Linked DNA regions of Homo sapiens. The gene in region 1 interacts genetically with each later gene. Each region holds a gene or a part of one and is shown in the gene's direction. Other genes may lie near its edges. The genes, in order: PAX3 and SOX10.

Region 1 (7,306 bases):
CTAGTTAGGGACAGTTCACAAGACAATGCCTGCCTGCTTCTTCTCAGGTCAGTTCTAGAGATTTACATTTTAATAGTACATACATTTTCTTTAAAGCATTTCCCCATATCTGGTGATGAGATACTGATTTAAATATAATTTTTTATAAGAGCAGTAGTCTATAAATATATAGGAATCTGGGAATAGTTAACTGTTACTCGCTTCTTAGGTACTAAGTCAAGTTTGGAATATTTTTAAAAATCACATTTAACAGATTTCATAATGTAAATGTTGGTGAAAATTTATCAGAAACAAAACTCAATGTGATCCATTCATTAGACACGAAGGAAGCACCCATTAAGTAGTAAGCATAGGGCCATACAAATGGAATAAGGCCTGTCCCTGTTTTCTAAGAGCTCATAATTGGCCTAGAATGACAGATGCTATGAGCAATTATTTCTGCCTAGGGGGCAGAAAGATAGAGTAGGAGAAGAGATTAAATATTATTTAATGATGCAGGACTGCATGGGGGCGGGGTGCTTGGTGTCCATGGAAGACATTGGGAATGCACTGTAGACCAGGATTTGAATTATTACGGATTGGTTAGACTTGTTTTTTGATCCACATTTATTTTACTTTAGGTATAGGGATCACTGTAATGGTGTCTTGCAGTCGGAGAGAGAACTTGGATTCAATCTCAGTTTTATTTTTTTGATTCACATTTTATGATGTTTTGTTCTTCTGTGCTTTTAGCCTCAGCACCCCAATCAGATGAAGGCTCTGATATTGACTCTGAACCAGATTTACCACTAAAGAGGAAACAGCGCAGAAGCCGAACCACCTTCACAGCAGAACAGCTGGAGGAACTGGAGCGTGCTTTTGAGAGAACTCATTACCCTGACATTTATACTAGGGAGGAACTGGCCCAGAGGGCGAAGCTCACCGAGGCCCGAGTACAGGTACTGTTGCCCAAACCTCCGTGTCCTACTTCAGTCCAGACAGGAAACAAACAAGCATCTTCTCATCTAAAACATATGTCAATCCCCCCCAAAAATGTATTAGGAATGGCCCTTTACTAGGGATGCATATTGTTAGGACTTTGATTATTTACTGACAGAATACAACTATATCATTTACGACACACAGAAGTCCACCACTTCATGTGACTAACTCAACTTTTCAGGAATCCTTATTGTACACCAGCACTATATGGACTTTGGGGGTGATACACAAGTAAGAGCAAATAAATTTTGAGTGGTTACTCTGTCCCAGCCACTATTTTAAGTGCTTCACATGAATTAACCCATTGAATCATTATTAAAATCCTAGGTGGGTACCATGATTGCTACTCTCCATTTACAAATAAGGAAACTGAGACTTGGACTATATAAGTAACTACCCAAGGTGGCATAGCTGCAAAGTGAGTCTAGAGATAATTGGATCCCATACGCTTCATCTCTGTGACCTTTCAATTATGAAAATGTGCAAAGGTGCATAACATGAAATTCCTTCATTTAACGATTTTATAATTAAGAAGCATTTCAAGAAATTATATTACTTAAAGAACATGTTGAATTATCTTTTGAACTCTTAGAGGTGCTCTGAACCTTCTGGAAAGGCTACTTAGATGTAATATGTTTCTATAGAGTATAGAATAATGTTTTCATCATTAATGAAGAACTACTTCCTGGAGCTAGTAAAACAGTGTTTGAAAGATGGCAGATATCGTAGGGTATCCTCGAACTCCTCACCACCCTAGAAGTTAAGTCACCTTGTCTGCAAATATTGTGTGTTATTTCCAGATTCTTAATTTGCAGGCTGGGGACTCAGCAGTGGACTAGTCAGTTGACATGGTCCCTAGATTGATCAACACGTTCATAGATGCAGCTAATTAACTCTCCTATTACAGAATTTTACAGAAATAGCCTCTTCCAGGCTGCAGAGCTCAGTCAGAGAGATTGTTTTCTTCAAACTTCCATATGATCATCATAGTGCTAGGAAAGTCAAGGAATGCTAAGATCAATTAAGACAGTTCTCTGAAGGAGTTGCAATCTAAGAAAGGTAAAAAAATAAACATACAAATAATTTAAAAATAACACAGACATGATAAGTGCAGAAAGAGAAAAAGTGCAATGGGAGTTGAGAAGAGGAAAGGATGAGATTTTTTTTTTTTTTTTTTTTTGAGGTGGAGTCTCACTCTGTCACCCAGGCTGGAGTGCAGTGGTACAACCTCAGCTCACTGCAACCTCTGCCTCCTGGGTTCAAGCGATTCTCCTGACTCAGTCTCCCAAGTAGCTGGGATTACAGGTGCTTGCCACCAGGCCCGGCTCATTTTTGTATTTTTAGTAGAGATGGGGTTTCACCATGTTGGTCAGGCTGGTCTCGAACTCCTGACCTCGTGATCTGGCCGCCTTGGCCTCCCAAAGTGCTGGGATTACAGGTATGAGCCACCATGCCCAACCTTTTTTTAAAAAATTATACTTTAAGTTCTGGGATATATGTGCAGAAGGGGCAGGTTTGTTACATAGGTATAACACGTGCCATGGTGGTTTGCTGCACCCATCAACCCGTCATCTACATTAGGTATTTCTCCTAATGCTATCCCTCCCCTAGCCCCCCACCCCCCAACAGGCCCTGGTGTGTGATTTTCCCCTCCCTGTGTCCATGTGTTCTCATTGTTCAACTCTCACTCATGAGTGAGAACATGCAGTGTTTGGTTTTCTGTTCCTGTGTTAGTTTACTGAGAATGATGGTTTCCAGGTTCATCCATGTCCCTGCAAAGGACATGAACTCAAGGGATGAGATCTTGAAGGAATGAAGAGAGGTACATGAAGAAGGCAGATTTAATTTTTTTTTTTTTTGAGACAGGGTCTCATTCTGTAGCCCAGGTTGGAGTACAGTGGTACAATCACAGCTCACTGAAGCCTACACCTCCTGAGCTCAGGTGATCCTCCCACCTCAGCCTCCCAGATAGTTGGGGCTACAGGTGCATGCCACTATGCCTGGATAATTTTTTGAAGAGATGGGATTTTGCCATGTTGCCCAGGCTCTTCTTGAACTCCCAGGTGCAAGCGATCCACTTGCCTTGGCTTCCCAAAGTGCTGGGATTATAGGCATGAGCCATTGTGCTGGGCCCAGAGGGCAGATTTAAGATGAACTTTCCGGGCTAGATAGATATTCACTGGACCAGGTGCATAAGGAGAGTATATTAGTAATAGGGAATTATATGAGCAGAGGCACAGAGAGGTAGAAGTGGTGGGCTACACGTAAGATAACCTTTCTTTTTCACTCTAGTCATATTGGGAGAATAGTTAGTTTGATTAGAATGTAAGGAGTGGTAGGGTGGTGGAAGAAATAGGGTTTGGTAGGTAGGCTGAGGATATCCTATGGAGGTCTTGGGTTTCAGGCCAGTGAGCTCACATTTGATGTGACAGGGAGTGGGGGCTATGGCATGAGATAGGTAGTGGCAGTGGGAATGGCAAGGAAGAGATGGTGGTGAAGGTATTCAGAGGTAGAATGGACAACCGATTGTGTAATCTAGAAGTGGGGAGGAAGGTGAGTGAAAGGAAGAGTTGTAGATAGACCAAGGTTCACAGAGCTGGTGTTTTAAAGTTGGGAAACCTATTATCATTGGGAAACAGAGTGTTTCTCCCCACCACACAGTGTAGAAATAACCTTTATTAACTAAGTCATAATATTTCAATAGAAAAATATTTTAATACAGTATTGATATAGTAATATTATATAATACTATATAAATATTATATTAACATAACATTAATATTACTATATCAATGTTATGATATTAACATGCATATTAATATAACAGTGCAGAGAAAAAATCTGTATCACAATCAAAAGGGCAGACAAATTAAATCATATAATAGTATATTATATATAACAATGTTATAAATAATATGTTTCAAATCTACTTTGCTTTTATTATAGTTCTGCAATTACCTGCAAATGTTATGTGAGGTCCAATCATGCCTCTTTTGAGTGGCCACTATATTCCAGGATTTGGTACCTGTCCTCTGTAACTGGCCAAGCCCACCTACTAGATCTGCTTTTTTGTTTGTTTGTTTGTTTGTTTTTTGAGACAGAGTCTCACTTTGTTGCCCAGCCTGTAGTACAGTGGCTTAATCATGGCTCACTGTGTAGCCTCGATCTTCCAAGCTCAAGTGATTCTTCCACCTCAGCTTCCAGAGTAGCTGGGTCTACAGATGTGTGCCACCATGTCTGGCTAATTATTTTTCTATTTTTTTGTAGAGCTGGGGTCTTGCTATGTTGCTCAGGTTGGTCTTGAGCTCCTGGACTCAAGTGATCCTCCCTCCTCAGCGTCTCAAAGTGTTGAGATTACAGGTGTGAGCCACTGGCACTAGATCTATTTTTAAAATAGGCCGAGTATCAGCTCTGAACTCAATGTGAGTAAGGAAAAATAAACATTTATTGTAAATAGATCAGACAAGGAGTGTGATGGAAAACTGAGGAGTGTTCGGTGTTGTTCTCTTTCATTCCTGCCTTTGTCAAAACTAAGGATGGAGACAGAATATATTTCAAACCCATGTAGCTTGTACAGCACCCAGCATTCTCATCTGGCTCAATGAATGTCAAAGGATAATAATAATGGCCCATTAACTTTCAGAGGACATGGGATCAAACCAATAAACAGTAGTTCATACTTTTCCATATAGTGACCTCCTCTTCGAAGCAGGGCCTTCATTAACGTAACAGCTGTCTTAATGTGGCTTTAACCCGGTGACTCTTGACATTCCTTATGGCTTCTTTAGTTCCCTTGAGACACATCATGGCTGGCACCACGGCTGTGATCTATAGCCTAACAAATTCCCTAGAACACCCAGCATATGGATCTTTTACTTAACCCAGCAGGAAAAAGAAGGGAGTAGTTAATCACTGATTAAAATGCCAGAAGAAAATCCTTTAGTTTTTAGAGGATCTGGGAAAGCAGTAGCCAAGTCAACTCAGTTTGAGTGATAGCCAGAAAGTGTGAGTTAGTTTAATTTGGGGCACCTGGGAAAACCAAACACGAAACACCCCCCAAACCCCAAATCATGTCTACATTTCATTTTTTTTCTCCTGAGGAAAAATATTTCTACACTCTTCTAAATAGAAATGGGACTAAAGCTATAATAACTTTAGCCTCTGTCAGTGTTTTATATAAATTCATTTAGGCTGTAGCTGTGTTGAGTTTATCATAACCAAATCTGAGTACACAATGTAAGAACTGTTGTATACTAACGACTATTTGCCTAGTAATAATAACACTACAAGGTTTTTTTTTTTTTTAAAAAAGATGATTTGCCTAATTCATCTGTAATGAGGGTAGCTGTTATTAATATCATGCAAATAATGACAAACATTCAAGTTTTGTGGGGAGGAATTACTTGCAAATATTAATTAATTAATTATTTTTTGAGACAGGGTCTCACTCTGTTGCCTGAGCTGGAGTGCACTGGAGTACAGTGGTGCGATCTCTGCTCACTGCAACCTCTGCCTCCTGGGCTCAGATGATCCTCCCGCCTCAGTCTCCTGGGTAGCCGAGACTACAGGCTTGTGCCACCACACCCAGCTAATTTTTGTATTGTAGAGATGCGGTTTCACCATGTTGCCAAGGCTGGTCTCAAACTCCTGGAATCAAGTAATCCTCCTATTTTTTGGCCTCCCAAAGTGCTGAGATTACAGGTGTAAGCCACTATGTCTGGCCCAAATATTTATGATGTGCAAAAGTTTTAGTAAATATTCCATCTAAGAATCCCATGAAGTAGGCAAGTAACATCCTGTTTTACCACGAAGACAATGGAAGACAGAAAAACAAGTTACTAGGGGAAATAGAATTTAACTAGGAGTCAGATGATATGGGTTTCGTTCCCAGTTGACAAATGTGTTTTGTTGAGCAAGTTACTTAATCTTGCTGGAATCCTTTTGGACTTCAGGTTTTTAATTTTTTTAATTTAAAAAAATATGGGGTTGGTTAGATCACATGATCTCAGCTGGGGTTCATGCCCCACCAGGATAATCATGGGTGGACTTCAGGAGATCTGGGAGATTTGAGATTTGTACACAAAATTTTGCTCCTTTGCTTGTGTATGTGTATATACAACTGTTAACTAGAGAAAGGGCCTCTGGCTTTCATTATGTGCTCAAATACCTTTCTCCCATGCCCAAATTAAAAACTAGTAGAACGCATGATTTCTCAGGACCCTTATAGCATCAGTAATTTAGGATTCCCAAAAAATAACAATGGTGATTCCCAAGGGTCCTGAGAAATCATGCATTTTGGGAATGACCCAAATGCATAATTTCTCAGGACCCTTGGGAATGAGAAAGGGAATGAGAATATGGCAGAATCCTTATAGCATCAGTAATTTGGAATTCCTAAAAAAGCACCATGATGATTTGAAGCCGTCTAACTGATCTGTATAGTTCAGAAGTTCAGATAGGTATAGAATATCCTAAGCTCCGTAATGAAGCAAACATATGTTCATCCTGAAGTTCTCTGCAGGAGTTTGCTTTTGGGAGGTATCAAGATGCAGTTGAGTGTGCTTTTGTGTGTGTCCATGGTCTTTTCACATGCATGGGAGCATGGCCTTCCTCCTGTTCAATCTTGCCCATCCTGTTTCCAACCTGCTCTCCAAATGGTGGCCAAAGTTGGATAGCAGCAGTGATTGGAAGGCTGGGAGAACCTTTCATAGAAAGAGAAAGGAGGTGAGAGTGAAGGAGAAGGTCCAGGGAAATGAGCAGCTTGCCCTGAATTTCCCTACTTGGAAAGTACTGTACTTGGCATGTCAGCATTCGACATCCTGAGTCTAGTATTTAACCAAACGTTTTACAATCTTGTTGCGAATTCTCTTTCTAAGGATTAACTATTATGTTCTCTCCCCATTTTTCAAATTGCATTTGAAGTAATCCGTCTTGAATAATGTAGGCTGAATTGCCTTTGAGAACACCACCAAAAATGTGAACCAGTAATTTATTGATGGGCAAAATTAGGCTGACACCAAGGGACAATTAGCACTAATCCATGAAACTTGGAAGCAAATTTGACCTAAGCCTCCATTCAAGTCAAACCGGCTTTCAATTATTTGAGGTGTTTTCTGGGCACTTTCCTGTTTACTCACAGACACAAAAGGCTTTGGCTGGACACCACAGAGTGAAGGAAGCAAAACAGAGCTTCAATTCTTGGTTTTCTCAGATAGAAGTGTCAGTGTGAGACTTTCTATTTAATAGCTAGCATTTACTGAACATTTAATATCTCCTTGGTATTCTTTTAGAAGCTTAGATTGCATTGCATTTTTAATAGTCACAA
Region 2 (3,050 bases), on another chromosome or scaffold:
TCAGGAGTTCAAGACAACCCTGGCCAACATGGTGAAACCCCGTCTCTACTAAAAATACACAAATTAGCTGGGCATTGTGGTGGGCGCTTGTAATTCCAGCTACTCAGGAGGCTGAGGCAGGAGAATCATTTGAACCCAGGAGGCAGAGGTTGCAGTGAGCCGAGATGGCGCCACTGCACTCCAGTCTGGGCAACAAGAGCGAAACTCCATCTCAAAAAAAAAAAACAAAAAAAAACCCGACTCATGCTGCCAAAATGTGAAACTTACAAGGTTTTCCCAGAGGCACCCGCTGCCTGAAGGTGAACCATGGAAGTTCACGTGCGCCCACCTGCCTCTAACCTGCTTCCCCCTTGCGCTCTCTCTCTCTGTCTCCCTTCTACCCAGGCCAGAGCCATGGCCCACCCACCCCTCCAACCACCCCGAAGACAGAGCTGCAGTCGGGCAAGGCAGACCCGAAGCGGGACGGGCGCTCCATGGGGGAGGGCGGGAAGCCTCACATCGACTTCGGCAACGTGGACATTGGTGAGATCAGCCACGAGGTAATGTCCAACATGGAGACCTTTGATGTGGCTGAGTTGGACCAGTACCTGCCGCCCAATGGGCACCCAGGCCATGTGAGCAGCTACTCAGCAGCCGGCTATGGGCTGGGCAGTGCCCTGGCCGTGGCCAGTGGACACTCCGCCTGGATCTCCAAGCCACCAGGCGTGGCTCTGCCCACGGTCTCACCACCTGGTGTGGATGCCAAAGCCCAGGTGAAGACAGAGACCGCGGGGCCCCAGGGGCCCCCACACTACACCGACCAGCCATCCACCTCACAGATCGCCTACACCTCCCTCAGCCTGCCCCACTATGGCTCAGCCTTCCCCTCCATCTCCCGCCCCCAGTTTGACTACTCTGACCATCAGCCCTCAGGACCCTATTATGGCCACTCGGGCCAGGCCTCTGGCCTCTACTCGGCCTTCTCCTATATGGGGCCCTCGCAGCGGCCCCTCTACACGGCCATCTCTGACCCCAGCCCCTCAGGGCCCCAGTCCCACAGCCCCACACACTGGGAGCAGCCAGTATATACGACACTGTCCCGGCCCTAAAGGGGGCCCTGTCGCCACCACCCCCCGCCCAGCCCCTGCCCCCAGCCTGTGTGCCCTGTTCCTTGCCCACCTCAGGCCTGGTGGTGGCAGTGGAGGAGGCTGAGGAGGCTGAAGAGGCTGACAGGTCGGGGGGCTTTCTGTCTGGCTCACTGCCCTGATGACCCACCCGCCCCATCCAGGCTCCAGCAGCAAAGCCCCAGGAGAACAGGCTGGACAGAGGAGAAGGAGGTTGACTGTTGCACCCACACTGAAAGATGAGGGGCTGCACCTTCCCCCAGGAATGACCCTCTATCCCAGGACCTGAGAAGGGCCTGCTCACCCTCCTCGGGGAGGGGAAGCACCAGGGTTGGTGGCATCGGAGGCCTTACCACTCCTATGACTCCTGTTTTCTCTCTCACAGATAGTGAGGGTCTGACATGCCCATGCCACCTATGCCACAGTGCCTAAGGGCTAGGCCACCCAGAGACTGTGCCCGGAGCTGGCCGTGTCTCCCACTCAGGGGCTGAGAGTAGCTTTGAGGAGCCTCATTGGGGAGTGGGGGGTTCGAGGGACTTAGTGGAGTTCTCATCCCTTCAATGCCCCCTCCCTTTCTGAAGGCAGGAAGGAGTTGGCACAGAGGCCCCCTGATCCAATTCTGTGCCAATAACCTCATTCTTTGTCTGAGAAACAGCCCCCAGTCCTCCTCCACTACAACCTCCATGACCTTGAGACGCATCCCAGGAGGTGACGAGGCAGGGGCTCCAGGAAAGGAATCAGAGACAATTCACAGAGCCTCCCTCCCTGGGCTCCTTGCCAGCTCCCTCTTCCCTTACTAGGCTCTATGGCCCCTGCTCAGTCAGCCCCACTCCCTGGGCTTCCCAGAGAGTGACAGCTGCTCAGGCCCTAACCCTTGGCTCCAGGAGACACAGGGCCCAGCACCCAGGTTGCTGTCGGCAGGCTGAAGACACTAGAATCCTGACCTGTACATTCTGCCCTTGCCTCTTACCCCTTGCCTCCCAGTGGTATTTGAATAAAGTATGTAGCTATATCTGCCCCTATTTTCCTGTTCTGCAGCCCCCCAAATCCACATGTAACTCATTACTGTCTCCTGTTATTTATCTCAGTAGTCCCCTCTCCTAGCCACTCTAGCCCCTATTAACTCTGCATTAAGCATTCCACATAATAAAATTAAAGGTTCCGGTTACCTGCTTGGTGAGCCTGACCTGGCCTGTCTCTTCATCTCTTATCCCTGTACTGGTGCTTCCTCAAATGCTTTCTGGAAGTAGCTAGGAGTAGAATGCAAAGGATAGATCATCAAAGGTCTCTCTCTCCCACCTCCCTCCCTCTTTCCCCACCCCCTTCCCCTCCCCCCTCCTCTCTCTCTCCCCCCTCCCTTCTCTCCTCTCTTTCTCTCTCTCTCTCCCCCCTCCCCCTCTCCTTTCTCTCTCTCTCCCCCCTCCCACTCTCCTCTCTCTCTTTCTGTCTCTCTCCCTGCTAAGAAAGTGGGAACAATGGAGAGTGTTAGGACAGCTGGCATCCCAGTGGGGTCCATCTGAGCTCAGGGACTGAAGCCTCAGATGGGAACTTCTCCCCAGCCCGGCGGCTATGCCCCACACTGCAGGGGGGCCACTCACTCTTAACTGGCTCAGCTAGAACTCACTGCCTTGCAAGCAGCCCCTCTGCTCACCCAGCACTCAGCAGACGGGAGTTTGCAAAGAATTCAAGAGACAGGTATCTGAAGAGGAGGAGGTGGGCTGAGGGTGACACCGTGCTGCCTGCAGTCAGAGGCCTGTCCTTCAGGATGTGTGGATAGGCCCTGTGTTGCTGCATCCCCCCACTTGCCACCTCCCCCAGCACACACACAGCAGCCCACGCCAGGATCTAGCCAAGCCTTCACAGCAGGTGCCCATGTCCAAGTCCAGACCAAGGATGTCAGACAGTCTACTCCTTAAGCGCCTACTCCCTAAGAGCTCTTTCCTCAGC

Evidence for each region.
Region 2: of PAX3 (region 1) and SOX10, changing one enhances a phenotype caused by changing the other (phenotypic enhancement), as found in Homo sapiens cells (one study listed by BioGRID).

The regions. Positions count from the first base shown.
Region 1 is NC_000002.12:222,225,710-222,233,015, reverse strand, and holds part of PAX3 (paired box protein Pax-3), read left to right. Parts: intron 1-732; coding exon 733-938; intron 939-7,306. UniProt on the Homo sapiens protein: Transcription factor that may regulate cell proliferation, migration and apoptosis. Involved in neural development and myogenesis. Transcriptional activator of MITF, acting synergistically with SOX10.
Region 2 is NC_000022.11:37,971,533-37,974,582, reverse strand, and holds the end of SOX10 (transcription factor SOX-10), read left to right. Parts: intron 1-384; coding exon 385-1,088; 3' UTR 1,089-2,271; downstream 2,272-3,050. UniProt on the Homo sapiens protein: Transcription factor that plays a central role in developing and mature glia.